Regions from separate parts of the Homo sapiens genome. Here regions 2, 3 and 4 are each linked to region 1. Evidence: fine-mapped expression QTL. A gene starts in region 1. Each other region holds a variant in brackets. All regions are shown on one strand. Distances are from middle to middle. Region 1 holds the start of MSH4 (mutS homolog 4). Region 2 overlaps LOC105378806 (a long non-coding RNA gene). Region 3 has its middle 19 kb from the start of ASB17. Region 4 overlaps ACADM (acyl-CoA dehydrogenase medium chain).

Region 1 (5,154 bases):
TAGTGAATGTTATCATTACTGATAAATAAGTGGGTGACCAAGCATCTGATGAAGAGAGGGATTAGACTGACAATGTGAACATTCATGTTGCTTTAAAGGAATTGCAAGTAGCTCAGTTTTGTTAGAAAGCAGGGTAAATATTAAATGATGAGGGATAAATCTGTAAAGATTAGAAACCGATCCCAATTGCTTTGGCTATCCTTCTAGAGAGTTTGATCTTTTACCTGCAGATACAGGTCTACTGATTTAAGTGGCAAGGGACATGATAAGATCATTTTCCACATAACTCTGGTGGTACAGTAAGTAAGCTACAAGGATGGAAGAACACTTAAGAGTTTGAGGGCTAGGTGCAGTGGCTCACACCTGTAATCCCAGCATTTTGGGAGGCTGAGGTAGGAGGATCGCTTGAGCCTAGAAGTTCGAGACCAGGCTGGGCAACGTAGGAAAACACTGTCTCTACAAAAAAATTTTTTAAATTAGCCATCTGTAGGGGCACATGCCTTGGTCCCAGCTACTCGGGAGGCTGAGGTGGGAGGATCGCTTGAGCCCAGGAATTTGAGGCTGCAGTGAGTCATGACCATGCCACTGCACTCCAGCCTGGGCAACAGAGCAAGACTCTGTCTCAAAAAAAAAAAAAAAGTGCAGAGAGGAATTTAATTAATCATATAGTCAGCCTGAGGTATCCATTAGTCCATCAATAAAAACTTCAGAAGACAGTCTGAAGTAAGTCTGGAGTGTAGATGAGATCTGAGCTGTGGAGATAGTCACATCTAGGTAGAAGTGGCCTAGGAAAAAAAGCTTTAATGACATGCCCATAATTTGGGAACAAAGGTGGGCACAGCAATTCTCTGGGAGGTAGCAGAAAAACAGGGGCAAGTGGAATCAAGGAAGCCAAATTAAAAGAGTTTAAGAGAAGACCAGTCAAGAACATTAAACATAGGCCAGGCAGCAGTGGCTCATGCCTGTAATCCCAATGCTTGGGCAGACCGAGGCAGGAGCACTTGAGACCAGGAGTTTGAGACCAGCATGGGCAGCATAGCGAGACTCTGTTTCTAAAAATAAAGAAATTAAGAACATTAAATACAGCAGAAAGGTCACATGAGATGAACTGAAAAATGACCATTGGATTTGGTATTTGTTACTTTACCATTGTGTTGCAATCGTGTGTGAAAAATGGTGATGCTTTGTCATGAATAGAGACTAACAAAATAATAAATGATTTGAAGGACATGCATCTTTTTTGTTTGTTTGTTTTGAGTCAGGGTCTCACTGTGTCACCCAGGCTGAAATGCAGTGGCGCAATCTCAGCTCACGGCAGCCTCGACCTCCCGGACTCGCCATCCTCCCACCTCAACCTCCTGAGTAGCTGGGACCACAGTCACGTGCCACCACACCCAGATAATTTTTGTACTTTTAGTAGAGATAGGGGATGGGGGTGGGAGGTTCACCATGTTGGCCAGGCTGGTGTGGAACTCCCGGCCTCAAGTGATCCGCCCACCCTGGTTTCCCAAAGTGCTGGGATTACAGGCGTCAGCCACCGCCCAGCCCACTCTTTTAATACTAAACATATTATTTTCCCTGAATTAGATGAAATGTTCAATTTAATCTATTTTATCCCACCTTAGCAGGATTTGGAGAATTAAATTCAGCAGCCAAAGATCAGCTCACAACTTCTATCAGCAAACTCACGCACAAACTGTCATTTGTCAGACACTGTGAGGGACGTTATATGGGATACTTCAGCCTTTCTCAGAACTGAGCCATCCACAGTCAAGGTCTTGCAATAGAACCAATTTGAAAAGTCAAGGCTTCTAATCACCCAGACTCACCAAATTCCCAGGGCACTCAGATCTCACGCCCCAACCAAATCACAACTTCACTGTGGTAACCACCACCCACGTGCCCCCGAGCCTCCATGAACTGCCGGCCTCTAGCCTCAAGGAGACTCCTCCACCCAATCACTCCTTGCCTTGAGCTGGCCGGGAGTTTGGCGCGGGGCAGGGAAGGCTGCTGCTGCTGCTGCTCCGGTCGCCCGCAGCTCCTGACGTGCCAGGACAGGTGGATGCAGAGACCACCTGGACCGAAGGGCGGCTCTGTGGAGTCTCCTGGAGTCCGAAATTGTAGCGGGGACCCTGAGGTGAGCGGGTTTCTCCCGACGACGGGGAAACCGCCGGGGCAGAAGGCGAGGTTGATGAGATCTCAGGCCTCAGCATCCTCCCAAACCTTCCCTGACCCGAGAAGTATGAGGTTTCTGAGCGACCCCTCCAGTAGCCCAACTACAGAAGCTGCGCCGCTGAAACGGGCGGGAGAACTGCGCGCCGACGCACTAAGCTGCACTGCGCAGGCGCAGGCAGGCTCAGCTTTCCACATGGATTCACGTACTTCAGGTCTATGACCCTGCTTCCAGCCATTCCCAAACCCATCACTTTCCACATGAACCTCACTGGAACATCCTCAGCCTGCAGGTATCAGACTGACCAGAACTCTGCAAGGCCCATCAATGACCACCCGATTTGTTAGCCCCATTATTCTCACAGCACCCAATCTCCCTTATTGCAAATGTTACATGCATTTCCCACACGTCCAAGCACACTAGCTTATCTTTAAATGTAGAAACCACCCAACACAGTACACCCAGTGCCTTTGACACAATGAGAACGTGTAATGCTCACACAGCATAACCCACCTAAGGTTGATCTTGTGACCAAATATAGGAAAGATAGTTATATTATCAAAAGATAGTATGCACATGGCTGTGTGCATAGTAGAGTAGGAAACAGGGAAAGACTGACTGGGTAAGATCTCTCAGTTAACAATTCCCCATCTACCAATTTCTAGTACTGTGGTTTCTAACATATAAATCAGTTAATGGCACACTAGAAGTTCAAACTCCAGCTTTGCAGTGGTGACCTTTAGAAAATTCCTTAAATAAGGCCAATAGTACCAACTTACCAGAGATCCATGGATTAAACATGACGAAATTATCTGGATACTGCCATACAGAAGCTATTAGAAGACATTAATTTACACCACTACTGAAATCCTGCCACTGTTGAGTATCTCAATAAACCAGTTATGCACAGCGGTTTACCCACATGCAGTGACAACAGTCCTTAAGAACATCTCTGTTCTTGGAATGATTATTGCACAGGGCATTCCAAACATACTTGAGAAAAATCTCAATTTCCATCAAAAAACCTTATTTTCAGATCGGGCACGATGGCTCCTCCCTGTAATCCCAGTACTTTGGGAGACTGAGGCCAGAGGATTACTTCACCTCCGGAGACCAGCCTGGGGAAGACAGTGCCTGTCCCCAAAATTAAGAAATCAGCTGGGCATAGTGGGCATGGTGGCAGGTACCTGTAGACCCTGGTACTCAGGAGGCTGAGGTGGAAGGACTGCTTGAGCCCAGGAGTTTAAGGTTACAGTGAGCTGTGATTGCACTACTATGCCCCAGCCTGGGGAAGAAAGGAAGACCCTGTCTCTAAAAAATAAAATTTAAAAATAGAGAATACCTCACTTTCACCAAAACTGTAAACCCCTAGAGTGATTGTACTCATTTTAGGCCAGGCGTGGTGGCTCACGCCTGTAATCCCAGCACTTTGGGAGGCCGAGGTGGGTGGATCACAAGGTCAGGCTGGTCTCCAGCTCCTCAGCATGGTGAAACCCTGTCTGTACTAAAGTAACATAAAAATTAGCCGGGCATGGTGGTGTGCGGCTGTAGTCCCAGCTACTCGAGAGGCTGCGGCTGAATTGCTTAAACCCGGCAGACGGAGGTTGCAGTTAAGCTGAGATCGTGCTGCTGCGCTCCAGCCTGGGCAACAGAGATTCTGTCACAAAAAAATAAAAAAGAGTGATTGTACCCATTTTAGCTTTTTAAGAAAAAGACAGGTGCAAAAAAATACTGTGGTGACCATCAACTTACCCGTTAGTGTTTCCTTATTTGAAGACAACTCCTTCTTTGGGTAATTCTGATATATAAAATGCTAAAAAAAAAAAAAAAAAAAAAAAAAAAAAGGACAGTCCGAATCACAACCCCATTTTAAGATGGTAGATTGCCATTTAACCTAAGTCTGTGACCAATTCAGAATAACCATATTCAAACCTATCAATCATTTCCAAATTTCAACAGCCATTTATTTTGTGCATCATTTAATTCATGTATGGGTTCTATCCACTTTCATCAGTTAACATTCTTGTTGACAAACCAATTTACATCAACTTGCTATAGAACAGATGAAAGGTATACATGGGGGAAAAATCAAGTAGAAACCTAGAGTTATTTTATGTTAGCTCAGTTATTGAACATAACAGACACAGAAGTATACACAAAGAACTGTAGTCAGAATAACAGGACTTCAGAATAAAAAGCAGAAAATAAAATACCGGTCTTTATTTTACAATATGTATAATTATATAATTTATTAAAATTAATTTAACACAATATACAAAATATTAACAGTAGTCACTTTTAGATTCGATAAGCACTTCAAATACAGAAATGTTAAAATGGCAAAACTATACTATGCAACTTTCAATTCAATGAATCTAGCTCACTAGCTCAGGCTGAACATTCACTCTCTGAAGCACTTCTTCAGGCATGCAAAAGACAGGATTAACAGGTTTAATCTGTTCTTCTCCCAAAAGTGACAATCCAGCAATTCCAAATAAGGTATGAAAAGGATCCACCTATTTAAAAAAGAATTTATATACAGATCACAAAATGAAAACTTCTTTAACTTCAAATTATGAATACCTGACCTTTACCATATACTAATTTTGTTAGCAACAAGCGACAAGAAATTTCTGTAAGATTGTTCTATATCCTTCATACACTCTACAATAAATAGAAAAAAAAACTGCTTTCAAAGCAACACTCGGAATGCCACCCTGGAAATCCATGGAACCATGAAGTAATGCAAACGCTGAAATAATTTATAGAAATATGTCAGAAATATTACTTGCCATATCTCCTGGCCTGTCTGCAAATCCCCCCGTTTCTTCATCTTGACATGCTAAAATGAAATTACGCAGTTTCTCTCTATCAATCCAATGAAGTCTTCCAATTATCTTTAGGGAAGCCAGGACCCACCATGAGTAGCATACATCTGGTAACTAGGAGGGAAAAAAGTTGCCACAATTTCATTCTCTTTT
Region 2 (5,154 bases), 190 kb before region 1:
GGTCCCTGCCTGGCCATACCTGCTTGCAACACAGTGTCAATGCCCAACCAGGACACTTCACAGCAGCCACTACCATAGCTTCTTCACTGGTAGACTCCACAAACCATCAGAGAGCTCCTGCAGACAGTGCCCCCCGCAACCCCGGCATGCACCTATCTGTAACCTCCCCCAGTTGCCTTAGCAGTGCATGCACATGAGCAGACCTTGCCATCCCAATCAAGTGCTTTTGCCAGCACCCCCCACCCCTGCCCATTGGACTGTTGTTGGCAGTGGACCAGGAATACCTCAGCCCCTCAAGCAGAGCAGGTGCTTAACCTCAAGTGGCCAGAGAACAAAGCCATGGGCCTGGTCCCAACTTCCCAAAGTTAGCGCATGCAGCACTGGAGTCCTGAGCTGAGTCTTGGCCCCCTGAAATTGTCCAGAAATAAAGCCAATCAACTGAATCCAACTTACACCACAGTCAAACCCTTAAGAGCATCAGAGAATATAAAGAGCTCTGGTGACTCTAAAAGCCACAGTGTCTTCTTACTTCCAAATAACCATGCTAGCTCCCCAGGAATGGTTCTTAACCAGGTTGAAATGGCTGAAATGACAGACATAGAATTCCATACAGAATGGCAATGAAGATCATGAGATTCAGGAGAAAGGTGAAAACCAATCCAAGAAATCTAAGGAATCCAGTAAAACATTACAAGAGCTAAAAGATGAAAGAGCCATTTTAAAGAAAGTACCAAACTGATCTGATAGAGCTGAAAAACTCACTATAAGATTTTCATAATACAATCAGAAGTATTAATGGCAGAATAAACCAAGCTGAAGAAAGAATCTGAGAGCTCAAAGATCAGTTTTCACATCAACTCAGTCAGACAAAAATAAAGAAAAAGGAATAATGAATGAACAAAACCTCTGAGAAATATGGGATTATTTAAAGAGAACAAATCTACAAATTGGTACACTTGAAAGAGAGGAAGAGCGAACAAGCAACTTGGAAAGCATATTTGAAAGTATTATCCATGAAAATTTCCGCAACCTCACTAGAGAGATTGACATTCAAATCCAAGAAACTCAGAGAATCCCTGTGACATACTAAACAAGACGGCCATCCACAAGATACAAAGTCATCAGATTCTCCAAGGTGGAAATGAAAGAAAAAAATGTTAAGGGCAGCTAAAGAGAAGGAGCAGGTCACCTGCTCCATCAGACTGACAGCTGACTATTCAGAGTAAACTCCACAAGCCAGAAGAGATTGGAAGCCTATATTCAGCATCTTTTTTTTTTTGACGGAGTCTCACTCTGTCTCCCAGGCTGGAGTGCAGTTGCGCAATCTCGGCTCACCGCAAGCTCTGCCTCCTGTGTTCATGCCATTCTCCTGCCTCAGCCTCCTGAGTAGCTGGGACTACAGGTGCCTGCCACCATGCCCAGCTAATTTTTTGTATTTTTAGTAGAGATGGGGTTTCACCGTGTTAGCTAGGATGGTCTCCATCTCCTGACCTCGTGATCTGCCTGCCTCGGCCTCCTAAAGTGCTGGGATTACAGGCATGAGCCACCACGCCTGGCCTATATTCAGCATCTTTAAAGAAAATAAATTCCAACCAAGAATTTCATATCCAGCCAAATTAAACTTCATAAGTGAAGGAGAAATAAAATCCTTTTAAGGAAAAGAAATGCTAAGGGAATTCATTACCACCATACCTGCCTGACAGGAGGTCCTTAAGGGAGTAGGAAGTGATCAGTTGGAAACCATGCATGTCAATGCCTCTATCTGGATGTTCAGCAGTACAAGAAAGGAAGTGGAACAGGAGCTGCAGCTGCAAAAAATGTCATGATTGAAGTTAAGCTCTTTTTTTGGTTTGTTTTGTTCTTATGAAGGAAGGACTTCTAAGCTGATGGTAGGAAAAGAAATAATAAAGATTGGAAATAAGAAATATAATTTTCTTGTCATTCTTTGAAAATAATTACATTCTTTTCTCATGTACATCCTGAGAAGAGGGTATAGTCAGTGCAAGTCATTTAAAGTCTCCTTAGTGACACCAGCAAGAAACAGAATAGGTCTTAGGCTCCATTGCTTCCCCACCCAATGTTTAACTAGCAACTACCGACAGATCAGAATACTTTTTTGAAAACCCCAATACTTGAATACAAGCCTGAGATTCCATGTTTCACATAACTGCATGAAAACTGAAATCAAAGTTTAAAAAGAATGGCCTCAAATTGAGCATGACACCCCTTTCCCTCCTCCTGCACAACACCAGACTGAGAAGATGGCTTGGGCCCACAGTTTATACAGGGAGAAAAGAGGACTAGAGGCAGTCATCCAGCTTTCCTAGCATTCTGAGATGTATTCCAGGAAATTCATTCTGGTCTCACCTTATGGGATACACTGTAGGTAGCAATAATGGCTAGACCACCCAGGGTTAAGTAGGAACAAAGAAAGGAAGTAGAGGTCATAGTGACTAGCATGCAGATCTTGGTAATACCTGTGTTCCTACCAGCTGGGGTGCCCAATCAGAGATATCCATCAACTTCATAGCCTATCTGCAAAGCTGAACTGGTGACCTTCAGAAGCATAACAAGAAGTTAATCTAGCTTGAGTGACTAGACAGCTAGTCTCCATACCCAGCCTCAGAGACCTCCCCAGTTACCCTGCCCAGGCACAATGATACTCACCTCTGCCCATTTTGGAGAAGTGTAGTGACCAGGCCTGCTTGACCATGGAAGTAAGCAGTGGCTCCACTCATACAAAAAGCCTGCCCAATGTTCTGCCCAGGCAGGGAGATTCTCATTGTATTAGTCAGGGTTCTCCAGAGGGGCAAAACTAATAAAATATATGTATATATGGAAGGGAGTTTATTAGGGAGAATTGGCTCACACAATCACAAGGTCAAGTCCCACGATAGGCTGTCTGCAAGCTGGGGAAGAGAAGCCAGTAGTGGCTCAGTGAAAGTCAGAAAGACTTAAAACTAGGGAAGTTGATAGTGCAGCCTTCAGTCCATGGCCAAAGGCCCAAGAGCCCCCAGCAAGCCATTGGTGCAAGTCCCAGA[G/A]TCCAAAGGCTGAAGAACCTGGAGTCTGAGGTCCAAGGGGAAGAGGAGCAGAAGGAAGCATCCAGCATGGTGTGGAACCACTGAGATTTGGGAATTAATATTAATACAACCTCATTCAACACACAGGCAGCTAAGACCTGGGCTTATTTGAGCCACACGCTTGCACTTGGAACACTTACAGCTTCCCTTTATTTAATTCCTGTGAATAAGGAGCTGTTCCTATCAACTGTCATTAAGGTCACTTCTAGTTCACAAATGGAAGGAATACGTGAGCAGCTTCTGCTCAGATGGCCACAAAATATCTTCAAAGTAAAATTCCTTTCTCTTTCTATATAGATTCTTGCTATAGTAACTTCACAGTTCTGCCTAGTCTTTCTCAAGCTATTTTTGTCTCTTTTGTTTATTCTTATACAAACTATGTGTCTCATTGGCCCAGCTGGTTGGAATAATTCTCAGACACCTACACCCTGGTCTCTTACTGACTCCATGGCTTCACCTGTTGACAGGGCATTGGGGCTGGTGCACACATAAGAATGATGAGCCAAAACAGCTCAAAACATAACTAATTTGATAGCTGTAGCCTAATTCTCCAAACTTCCAGCCAAAGGCCACCAAAACCGTAGGAAAGAGGGAGATCCCTATCCCCTACAAAAGGTGAACGAAAGGGTAAGCTGTCCTCAGGCCGAAGTGAGAGTTCTAACCTCTATAGCTCCAATTCCTTGGAGACTTAAGGGTCTGCTTTTCTCGTCAAAGAAACAAAAACAGAGAGAGACACACACAGGATGTGAATGAACTCTAAAGTCCAGCAAGCAAACAGAAACTAGTTATCAGTCAATCAGAGAAACAGGAAAACAACAAGAAGAGAAATGCAAGAAAAGTAAGAGGGGCAGATAAGGTGGATGCTGGCAGAAGGAGATAGCAGGACGGGCAAGTGAGAGAGATCAAGAGGGAAGGGAAGAAGAGACAGAGAAGGGGACTGAGCTTGATCAGTGTAACCATGGTTATACAAGGAGTATTCAAAAATCTCATGCAAAAGACAAGACATGTGAGTCATGTACCTAATACATGACTTAAAACTCCTCCCGCTTGTGAAAGGTATGGAGCTGTACAGAAGGAGAAAAAGAGCAGCAAGTTTCCTGGGGAGTCCAATAATACTATGTAATATCTATTGGGAGAGGGCTGGTTTGATCCATTATCTTACCTGGAGCTGGTCTACAGTGGTTACCCAATAACATGTATTACCTAATTTTAAATTTTAATTGTTCTTGTGCCTATACTGTTTACATAAATAATATGCCAGGCGCGGTGGCTCACGCCTGTAATCCCAGCACTTTGGGAGGCCGAGGAGGGCGGATCACGAGGTCAGGAGATGGAGACCATCCTGGCTAACACAGTGAAACCCCGTCTCTACTAAAAATACAAAAAATTAGCCGGGTGTCGTGGCGGGCGCCTGTAGTCCCAGCTACTCGGGAGGCTGAGGCAGGAGAATGGCGTGAACCCGGGAGGCGGAGCTTGCAGTGAGCCGAGATAGCGCCACTGCACTCCGGCCTGGGTGAAAGAGCAAGACTCCGTCTCAGAAATAAATAAATAAATAAATAAATAAATAAATAAATAAATAAATAAAATAATAATAATACATTACTTTGGTCATTAACAGTCAGTATATTAGTATTTTGGACTGGAATGGAACAGAATACTACCTGAAACAAATATATTTGTTTTCAATAAAGTGATTTTCTGTTTATCAGCTGTATGAGTCCCTCAGGGTGCAAGAGGCTGAGCCCATGTACCCTTAGAAATCACAGGCAGAGTCTGATACACAAAGGAGGAAAGACCAAAGTCGGGGAACCCTTGGTTGGCCCCCATAGGCAAGCGGGTATCTTTCCAGTTTCACTCCCTCCTCTTATTCTAGGTTCCTGGAACCCGTTTTTTGACTCATCCTCTGAACTCTCTGACCCGTATTTTTCAGTAGCCGCCTGTTATTAACCTATTTCTGACTATGGGTCTTTGCTGCTGAGTTTCATTGGAAGGTTCCCCTACCTCACTATTTCCACAGCCATCCCTCATCAGCAGCTGCTGCTTGGCTGTCTTCTTTCCTGGTGGATACCACCTA
Region 3 (5,154 bases), 160 kb before region 1:
AGCCAGCAGCTACTGATAGGATGAATGTATGTTTAGGAAATCCAAGAGTACAGTAATAAAATGTCCTGAAATGACATTGAAAGTCAAGGAAGTATAAAATATATGAGTTGGATGGAAAAAAAATGGAGTGATCTGGTAGTCACTACCTTAAAGAAGGATCAAACTTTGCTTCACTAATGCTGGGACAGTATGATGTCATGTAACTTCTGGTATGATGCAAAATAATACTTCAATATAACCTATGAAGTAATCTTGTAAAAAAATGCTACACTGAATTTAATGAAGTTAGATTACAAAAAATATAACAGATAACGCCAGGCATGGTGTCTCACGCCTGTAATCCCAGCACTTTGGGACGCCGAGGCGGGCAGATCACTTCAGGTCAGGAGTTCAAGACCAGCCTGGCCAACATTGTGAAACCCCATCTCTACTAAAAATACAAACATCAGCCAGAAGTGGTGATGCATGCCTGTAGTCCCAGCTACCTGGGAGGCTGAGGACGGAGTGTGGCAGGCCAGTTCTCATTAATTCAGGCTTCCATTGCAACTGTCCCAGCACTGACTGAGTAGCTAAGTTAAACATTAAAAGGTGATTGAGCCAGTGCCCTTTTACAAACTGGAATGTAACAAAGAGCCCGCCAAGAGTTTTGCTTAGGCTTTTCCTGGGCCTTGAAGCATGACAAGATAACAAAGGAATTCCTGACAGAACCCTTTTAGGATTAAAGAAGTTTTATTGGGGGTCTGAAGAAACTCCCCAGGCCTCCACAAACAAGTTTATTGGGGTCTAAAGGAATGTCCCAAACCTTTATGATTTAGCAGGAGACAAGATAAAGGTAATCACCCCAGCACCTAGACCCATTTAGATTAAGTAAACTTACAGAGGCTCCAGAAGAAGGTCTTCAGGACCCAGACCTTAGTTATAGATAGATTAAAAGAAGTTAATCACTTATGTCTTTAGATTTAATGCACACTTACATGTAGACATATAGCTTATAAGGTATATAAGCTCTGGAAAACTTTGTAATTTTCAGTTGGTCTGGTGATAATTTCCAGGCCTTCTCCCTGTAGCTGGTTACAGAAATAAAAACTCTCTTCCTCCCCAGTTCATCTGCATCTTGTTATTGGGCCGCAAGAAATAGCAGCCCAACCCTCAGTTTGGTCCGGGAACAGGAGGATCACTTGAACCCGAGGGGCAGAGGTTGTAATGAGCCATAATTGCTGCCACTGCACTCCAGCCTGGGTGACAGCAGCCTGGGCGACAGAGTGAGACTCCGTCTCAAAAAACAAAATAAAAAAAGAAAGAAGAAAGAAAGTATAACAGATAAAGAAAGAAGTTAAATCTCAGTATGAGGAAACAATTAGACAAATTCAGAATGTAGGATATTCCATAATCATCATGGAGTCAATATTATGAGAGGAGTTTGAAAACTGTTTCAAAATCCAAAAAGACAAAAAATTAAATGCAATTTGTGAATTTCTATTGGTTTTATATTTTTACAAAAACTCTAAAGACACATCTTAGGACACTTGGGGAAAGTTGAATCCGGACTAGATATTAGATAATTTAGAGATGAGCTGGCGAATTTAGAAATTATGTGCTATAATATATTCACTTTCCAAAAGAGAAAACTAAAGACCCAGGGAGTTTAAATGTGTAATTTTGGATACAATTATACGTTTAATTAACCATAGTGTTATGTTTAAACCCAGTTCATCTCATTCTATATACAATGCTCATTTCACTATTAGAGACTAATGCTATTTATATAAATCATGCCTATTATATAGGATAATAAAAATAACTAACCATATAGTAAAGAAGGAAAGAAATGTCACTTTTCATTTATCTTTTACCAATGGAGTTCATTAACTTGCTTACTGAGTGTGTTAAGGTTGACTAGTTTTCCTAAGTAAGAGCACCAGCCTCTATCTTCTGCATACATATATTGCTCAAGTCTTCTTAATCCTTTAGAATTAAAGCCATATATTTTCCTGCTGGTGCAACAATTAAAACCACAACTGAGCAACCACAGCAGGAGGCAGAAAAGATTCTATCTTGTCCCTCTTGATTATAAAATTGTATACCACCTCCCAGAGAAATACAAATGTAATGAAATTCTGGAACAAGAAAAGAGATGTACAGTATTTACAAACTTAAAACTTGCGTGGCTTGGGTCCATTGTTGTCTTTCTATTTCCCTCCACAGCTGATATTCAGTCCTTTTCATTATCAAGAGAATGATCATTTGTCCATGAATACATACCCATAGTATTATAGACTTACCCAAACTTAAGTAGATAAAAACAAAACAAAACAAAACAAAACAAAACAAAACAAAACAAAAAAACCTCTACCACTAAAAATCTCTCACTCCTTTTCATCTTATCAGGGAGCTGACAGGAGCTGCAGATATGCATGTCTGTTAGTTATTGGCTTGTGGTTTTGTTTGCTTACTTGCTGTTTTG[C/T]AACAGAGAGTAAGCTTTTGTTCCTCCATTTGTGTACAAGAAAATTGTTAGAAATTCACATACATGATCAATACCCATTTAAGCACTGAAATGACAACTGACAAAATTCAGTGATATTCCACAACAAAATAATCTTTTCATTTGACAAAATATTTTATTTTTAAACTAAAATTAGCTTTAAGAAAGTATACCACACATTGATTTTACTTTATATCCTCTGCAAGACACTGCCTAGATAGTCAATAAATATTGGTATGGCAGACCTTTGAATAATGGTTCATTCAACATCATTTTGTTATAACACTGATGAGAAAAAAAATCAATTCCAAGCTGGGGCCACTGTCTGTGTGAAGTTTGCACATTCTCCCCATGTTTGCATGGGTATTCTCTGGGCACTCTAATTTCTTCCCACATCCCAAAGCTGTGCATGTGTGTGGAATTGGTGCATTTAAATGATGTCAGTCTGAATGAGTGTGGGGGTAAGTGCGCCCTGTGATGGAAAGACATCCTGTCAGGATTGGCTCCCACCTTGTGCCCTGAGCTGCCAGGATAGGCTCTGGCCACCCAAGACCCTGAACTCTAATAAGCAAGTTGAAAAATGAATGAATGAATACAAATTATTGTCAAATAAAAATTCATAAAGTAGGTGGTAATCATACCGACATATGACAATAAATGATGAGCTATGAAAGTGCACAGAGCACCCACCCTGTTTGTCAGTTAGTTTTTGAACTGCATGATAGTAGGAGATGTTTCTTGATTTAATAACCATGACTGCCATCACTTACTGATTCACCAAAAACTGGGTAAATAATTATCTTGCTTGTGTTTATTAATCCTAAATGTATGAATAGTTCACATGTATTTCCATGCTTAATATTAAAAGTGTTTTGTGTCTTTATTTAAAAGTTTAGTGGCTCGATATGCTGGCCCATGCCTGTAATCCCAGCACTTTGGGAGGCCAGGAGTTTGAGATTAGCCTGGAAAACAGAGAGAGACCCCATCTCTACAAAAAAGAAAAAGTTAAAAATTAGCTGGGCATGGTGGTGCACAACTGTAATCTTGGTTACTTAGGAGGCTGAGTTGGGAGGATCACTTGAGCCCAGGAGATCAAAACATAAAAAAATTGTATGTTTTTGTGATCGGAAATGTGTCTTAGAAACGTAACTCTTTATATATATATATATCAGTCTATGGTAAAATTGGTTTTGTTATAAGTAGTTTCTTCTAAAGTTGCATAGGTTTCCAAGAGCCTTATCAAGGACATGAAATGAAGACTTACTGTATTTGGTTTCCAGCATCTATTCACGTAGTTATGCTAACCAACAGAATGATGCACAAAACCAAATGATAAAGACTCACTTCTTTTTCCTCCTGGCCTGAAAAACAGGAAGGCATTGTTCATAATGTGATTTGGGCATTATGTAACTGGTATTCTCAGATACTGAGAGTGATTAAAAATTCTGTTCTAGTGAATAGTTTAATCTCCCCAATGAACTCTTACTGATTTCCATTGTAAAGCATTTCGTCCGATGGCTTTCATTACCTCTGTCTAGATGATCAGATTTTTAAAAATAACAGTTCACATTAATAATGTTTTACTCTAGTCCTTCTCCAATATATTTTAGTCAGTTGCTCCTTTTTCCCTTAAATGATTTGTAATGCAAATGAAAGAATCTGAGAAGTCACAAGTTGGATTCTGACCTCTTAAATTAACTTCATTAAAATAGCTCTAACTACAGAAAAGAGCAGACCTTCTTGCTTTGGGGGTGAAAAGAATCACAATCTGAAATGTCAGTTGCCTCAGGCAGGCACATCACATTGAGTTGCATTTAAAGCTAGCTTCAAGCTAGCTTCACACTGAATTATAAAAGTCACTGAAGTCATCTCTTTTCATCTAAAGGAAAATAATTTTAGTATTATTTAACATTGGGAATAATGGTTCACGGATACATAACAGCCTACTAATTTTACCCTTATATAATACCAACTTTTCTCTGAAAAAATAAAAAGCCTATAAAGCTACCTAATAAGTGATATAATTTGATATAATATCAGTGTATATATGAATTAATGTGATAAAAATGTAGAGACAATTCAGTAATTGTTTTAGTTGGCAACAATGAAAATTTGTAGTTAATGATTATCTGATGAGGACAAGAAAACAGTTTTTTAAAGTCTAGAAGTATAAATCTGTGAAAGCAAGTAAAGCCATCTCATAAAAAAAAGTTTTAAAAGAAGGAGCTCTCTGGTAAAAGGAATTTGAGGAGATTAAGTGTTTGAAATGCTTGTTCCCTGGTGCTGTAAAGAAATAGCACTTGAACGTAAATTTAATTTACTCAGCAAGGCCATTTTTACTTCCTGCAGAAAGGGTATACTCGCCAGCAGTTTTGCCATGAGAGTACATCAAACAAAGGAGACAGGGTCATTTATAAACTGACGCATCCACCCTACTGCTGTGTCCGGTTTCCATTGGCTGGAAAAAGACCTCACATTCTGTATTTGTCCCGACTGGCTAGCAACTTGGAGCTTTTTAAAAGAGGCAAAGGCAGAGGAGAACAAAGGAAGGAGGAAGTAACTTGTGGAATGCTGAAAAAGGTAAAAACACCTTCAAATAAGAAAGAGGAACAGGCTATATGACCTAATGTTTGCTTGGACCAGTATAAGCATGCCAGGGCAAATATTTAGGC
Region 4 (5,154 bases), 57 kb after region 1:
TTTCTTTATGCAGCAAGTCAGTGTTTTTGTTATAGCTGAGTTATTATGAATATTTGCTGATTTTTTCCTACAGAAGAATTTCTCAGAAAGATCTTGAAGTGCAACATAAGAAAAAAATGCAAATATCCAAGCATCTGTCTAATTCATGTTCTATATATCCTGGTACACGAAAAATTCTTTTAAAAAGGTATATTCTTCCCTAAACAACACAAACTTATTTTCTTTGGTTAAAACCAATACATTACCACTCATTCTATAGTTTTATTTAATAATAGTAACAAAATCGTAAAAATTGTTATCTGGTTTCATATATTACCTAATTTGCCTTACTATATGAACAGTGAACAGTTGTAATCAGTTCTTTCTTTTTGTTTTAATTTTGTAAAGATGGGGTCTCGTTATGTTGCCCAAGCTGGTCTTGAACCCCTGGGCTCAAGCAATCCTCCTGCCTCAGCCTCCAAAACTGCTGGGATTGTAGACGTGAGTGATTGCACCTGGCTAATCCGTTTTTAAAATTACGAAAACTTCAAACTGCATTGTTAGATTTCTCTCAACTTGTTAAATTTTAATAGTTTCTTCACTTTTTATTAGTTGCTGATATTACCAGGAATTGGTTAAAGGTAAAGATATAGCACTCCATAATACTGAATATATTTAGGATGCTCATAAGGAATTGACTGATATGTTTAATCTAAGTAACTTTTTAGTAGGCTCACTCTGAAAAAAAATGATGTTTTATTTGCTAGAAAACTGTAGTATATGGCACACAAATATATTGAATCTGAATTTTTTACAAAGAGAGACAGGTCATTTAGTACATTATTCCAATCAATAAAAAGTTATTCTAGAAACTCTCTATATACTTGTAGTGATGGGTAAATACAGTATTTCCCATGACAACTTAACAGCACTGCTGATAGAAAGCCTGTCCTTATGTTAAGCTAAATTCTACATTTTTCTAACTTTCACTCATTAATTCTAAGCTGGCATCCTGAAGTAAACATATAAGCCTGATCATCTTTCTGTGTAATAATATTTGAAAAACTTCAAGATTCTTCCAAAATAACCAAGGCTTTGCTTTTCAGAACATGTTTTGTAGGCTCCTCCTAATGCAAGATACTTACATGCTTCTAGATTTAGTCAAGTTTTTCAATACATGTTTTAAAATGTGTTGCCCAGAACTGTCACCATTTTTTCTCTATTTGATGCTGTACTTCTATTACTTTGGCTTAAAATTACATTGGCTTTTTAAAGGCTCATACTATTGATTCTTATTGAACTTAACAGTTATTGAACTTTCCTCATCTTTTATCAACAAATAATCGAGTGTTTTTTTTTAGTATTTTATATTTATACAAATTATTTTTGATCCTTTGTTGAACTTCATATTTTTTGACCATATATTAGAAAATTTCAGATTTTATTAAAGTCAAATTCTGTCTTCTCTAATAGATAACCTGTTTTAAGACTGACTCTGTTTATTTCTGACATCTGGAGACAGGCACTATACCAAAGGTTCTCCTTTTTCCTTAGGGTTTTAGGGATTCCAAGGAGCGGCTGGTATAGGAGATGAGGAGTGGAGATAATAAGCCAAGTAGACAGAGTGCTAGCCTTCCTAATCAGATTCAAACAGAGCACGCATTTGTATTTTATTTTACACATTAAACTTCTGAGAGTTAATTTGAAAAAACAGTGCAGGGGCTTAAAATTAGTTTTTGAAAATCACTGAACTGTTTATAATCTCCTTTAGGCCTTCCAGTTCCACAAACATACCTTAACTGTAGTGGTTTAAAAATATACAGAAAGAAAGAGAGATTTGAAGATAAAACAATTAAGAAAAAATATACAAAGATGTTTTGAACAACATACCAATTAGCTTTTCCTCCGTTGGTTATCCACATCTTCTGACCATTAATAATATACTCATCTCCTTTCTTTTCTGCTTTGGTCTTTATACCAGCTACATCAGAGCCTGCTCCAGGTTCTGTTACACAATAAGCCTTGAATATATAAAAACAAGAGAAATGAAATTAAATGTTAGTGATTAAATTTTGACTGTTTGGAAACAGGATTGTTTTATTTTTTAAGCTGTATTTTAAATATTTTTAAATATCTAAAATTAAAATGTTCTTACAAAATCAAAGAAACCACTCAAATGTAAAAACTTTTCTGTTTTGTTTGTAAGAGACAGGGTCTCACTCTCTTGCCCAGGCTGGAATGCAGAGGCTCAATGCAGTCTTGGCTTCCTGGACTCAGGAAATCCTCCCGCCTCAGCCTCCCGTGTATAATAGCTGAGACTGCAAGCACACATCACCATGCCCAGCTAATTTTAAATTTTTTGTAGACATGGCATCTCACTGTGTTGCCTAGGCTGGTCTCAACCTCCTGGGCTCAGGCAATCCTCTGCCTCAGCCTCCCAAAGTGCTGGGACTACAGGTATGAGCCACAGTGCCTGGCCTAAAAACACTTAATATATAATTCAAATTAGGCATAGGTATATCAACAAATCATATATTTAATAAAAAGTGAAAATGTTAGATAGCTTTAAACAAGTTCATTAAATTCAATTTCACATGTATTCATTCATGCAAACATGTATTGAATATCTACTATGTACCACGATGTAAATTAGGATATGGGGAAACCAGAGGTAAAAGACATTCAGTCCTAGAGATTTTCACAATGTAACAGTGAAGATAAATAACTATACTGCAACTCTATGTGTGAAAGTCAGACAAGGGGCTTGAGAAACTAGTTTCCCAGGGCAGAGGATGTTTAAATTAAGTCTCAAAAAGGAAAATGGCTTCTTTGCGAGGAGGGAAAAAGAGGAAGAATATGCATTCCAGGTACAAGTAATGGCATATGCTATGACACTAAGATAAGAAACAGAGTTACCCAGTGTTTCTAATGCTGAAAGTACCAGAGTTCCACAGTATGTAAATTCTGTGCATGTAAGGGAATGGTAAGACATGAGTCTGGAAAGAAAGGAAGGAAATGGTCGACGAGAATCTTTTATATCACATTACAAATTTAAAATTTTATCTGGTAGAAACAGGGGAGCCTCTTAGAGCTCTTAAACAGAGGAGTGACAAGACACAAGCAGTAATGGATAAAAGGGGGTGGTAGAAGGCAAGTGTTAGTGCAAGTTAATTCAAGAGTGGC[C/G]GGTACTGTGGATACTAAAGAAACAAGTTACTTGCCCTTAAGGTACTTACAGTCCAAAGAAGAAAGAAACTGGGCCGAGCATGGTGGCCCCCCACCTGTAATCCTAGCATTTTGTGAGGCTGAGATGGGAGGATCGCTTGAGACCAGGAGTTCAAGACCAGCCTGGTCAACATGCCGAGAACCCATGTCAATTTATTTTTTAAAAATATACAACAAAAAAGAAAGAAACTATATACATTTTAATTCAAAGTAGTAAGCATATATAGGGGCACTAGAAATGATTACTTAGGGCCGGGCGTGGTGGCTGAGGCTTCAGGTTTGTAATCCCAGCACTTTGGGAGGCCGAGGCAGGTGGGTCACCTGAGGTTAGGAGTTCGAGACCAGCCTGGCCAACATGGTGAAACCCTGTCTCTACTAAAAATACAAAAACTTAGCCAGGCTTGGTGGCGGGCGCCTGTAATCCCAGCTACTTGGGAGGCTGAGGAAGAATTGCTTGAACCTGGGAGGTGGAGGTTGCAGTGAGCCGAGATGGTGCCACTGCACTCCAGCCTAGGCAACAGAGCGAGACTCCATTTCAGAAAAAAAAAATAATAACAATACTTGGCTGGGCATGGTGGCTCACACCTGTAATTCCAGCACATTGGGAGGCCAAGGTGGGCAGATCATGAGGTCAGGAGATAGAGACCATCCTGGCTAACACAGTGAAATCTTGTCTCTACTAAACATACAAAAAATTAGGCAGGCGTGGTGGCACGCACCTGTAGTCCCAGCTGCTTGGGAGGCTGAGGCAGGAGAATCGCTTGAACCTGGGAGGCAGAGGTTGCAGTGGGCCAAGATCACACCACTGCACTCCGACCTGGGCAACAGAGCGAGACTCCGTCTCAAAAAATAAATAAATAAATAAATATAACTATACTCAAACATCTGAAGGGCAATATAGCCAAAGAAAAGTACAGTGAAATCACTCTAACATTTATTGAACACCTATTACAGTATGAACTGGTAAAATTATAAAAAAAAAAATGACAGGTTCTGTGCTTAAGCATTATGTAATCCAAAATATTTTTCTAATGATAACAGATGCTCGCAAATGATGCTGTTTCAGAAGGTGTTGATTCCCAGGCACCTGAGGTATAAAAACATGTCAGCCAGATGGTCTTTTGACAGGGATTCTGTAGAGGGGATTCAGGTGTCACTCAAGTTAACTGAACTAGATTACTCTGCTACCTGGAGATTTGATGTATTCAGCATCATGACAAATTAAGGAGTTGTCCATAAAAGATGCCCCTTTTAAGTACCAAAATTTTGTTTTAACCACCTTTAAGGTATTTTTTTCCCTGAAATATGCTATTAGACATCTGTCTGTTTCATAATACAGTGAAGTTTTTAGAGCCTGTGAAGTAAATGAGCCTGTTTTTTTCTATACAAAATGGCTTGTCACTACTGGTTCCTCAGAGTTGTTTTTGTCTTCTTTTCTTCTTTTTGGTTTCATATATATATATATATATATATATATATATATATATATATATATATATTTGTGTGTGTGTGTGGTGGCAGTCTCTCAACGTTGTCCAGGCTGGTCTTGAACTCCTGGCCTCAAGCGATCCTCCTGCCTTGGCTTCCCAAAGTGTTAAGATTACAGGCATGAGCCACCATGCCTGGCCTGTTCTTGGCTTCTTATTTGATCATTTTTATTTATTTTTTTTCTGTATTATTTTTTACCATAACATTATTTTCCAAAGTAAAAACCCAAGGAGTTTAAACATTCAACAGTACAGAAAAGTGAAACAATTTATAGCATATCCATTAGATAGCAAATTATGCAGTATTGTTACAGCATGTAAAAAGAAGGAAGGCATAAGAAAATGTTCATGTTGTTAAATAAAGATGTACATAAAACTACATGTATATAATGGGGGCTAACTGTTAAAAACACAATTACATATTTAAAAATGTGGTAGGCACTACAATAAGGAAGTAATACTAATT

What was found. PIP is the estimated chance that this variant, and not a neighbour inherited with it, causes the effect. A credible set is the group of variants that fine-mapping cannot tell apart.
Region 2: its variant is the best candidate, but not a certain one, in a credible set for the expression of MSH4 in testis (GTEx, PIP 0.84).
Region 3: its variant is the best candidate, but not a certain one, in a credible set for the expression of MSH4 in prefrontal cortex (GTEx, PIP 0.69).
Region 4: its variant is the best candidate, but not a certain one, in a credible set for the expression of MSH4 in sigmoid colon (GTEx, PIP 0.74).

Annotation. Positions count from the first base shown.
Region 1 is chr1:75,794,045-75,799,198 of GRCh38, reverse strand. MSH4 (mutS homolog 4) reads right to left here and starts at 2,317. Exons shown (of 20, transcript NM_002440.4): 1 at 1,970-2,317. The coding sequence starts at 2,213. It overlaps RABGGTB (Rab geranylgeranyltransferase subunit beta), which reads right to left. Exons shown (of 9, transcript NM_004582.4): 8 at 4,966-5,115; 9 at 4,113-4,689. The coding sequence ends at 4,549.
Region 2 is chr1:75,980,099-75,985,252 of GRCh38, reverse strand. The region is part of intron 2 of LOC105378806 (a long non-coding RNA gene); the gene reads left to right. Among named protein-coding and RNA genes, the nearest start is that of ASB17, 50 kb to the right of the region's middle. RefSeq lists an enhancer at 3,490-3,549. The variant G/A (reference allele first, on the strand shown) is at 3,042.
Region 3 is chr1:75,949,066-75,954,219 of GRCh38, reverse strand. No RefSeq gene overlaps it. Among named protein-coding and RNA genes, the nearest start is that of ASB17, 19 kb to the right of the region's middle. The variant C/T (reference allele first, on the strand shown) is at 2,465.
Region 4 is chr1:75,736,826-75,741,979 of GRCh38, reverse strand. ACADM (acyl-CoA dehydrogenase medium chain) reads right to left here. Exons shown (of 12, transcript NM_000016.6): 7 at 1,870-2,000. Among named protein-coding and RNA genes, the nearest start is that of ACADM, 15 kb to the right of the region's middle. The variant C/G (reference allele first, on the strand shown) is at 3,163.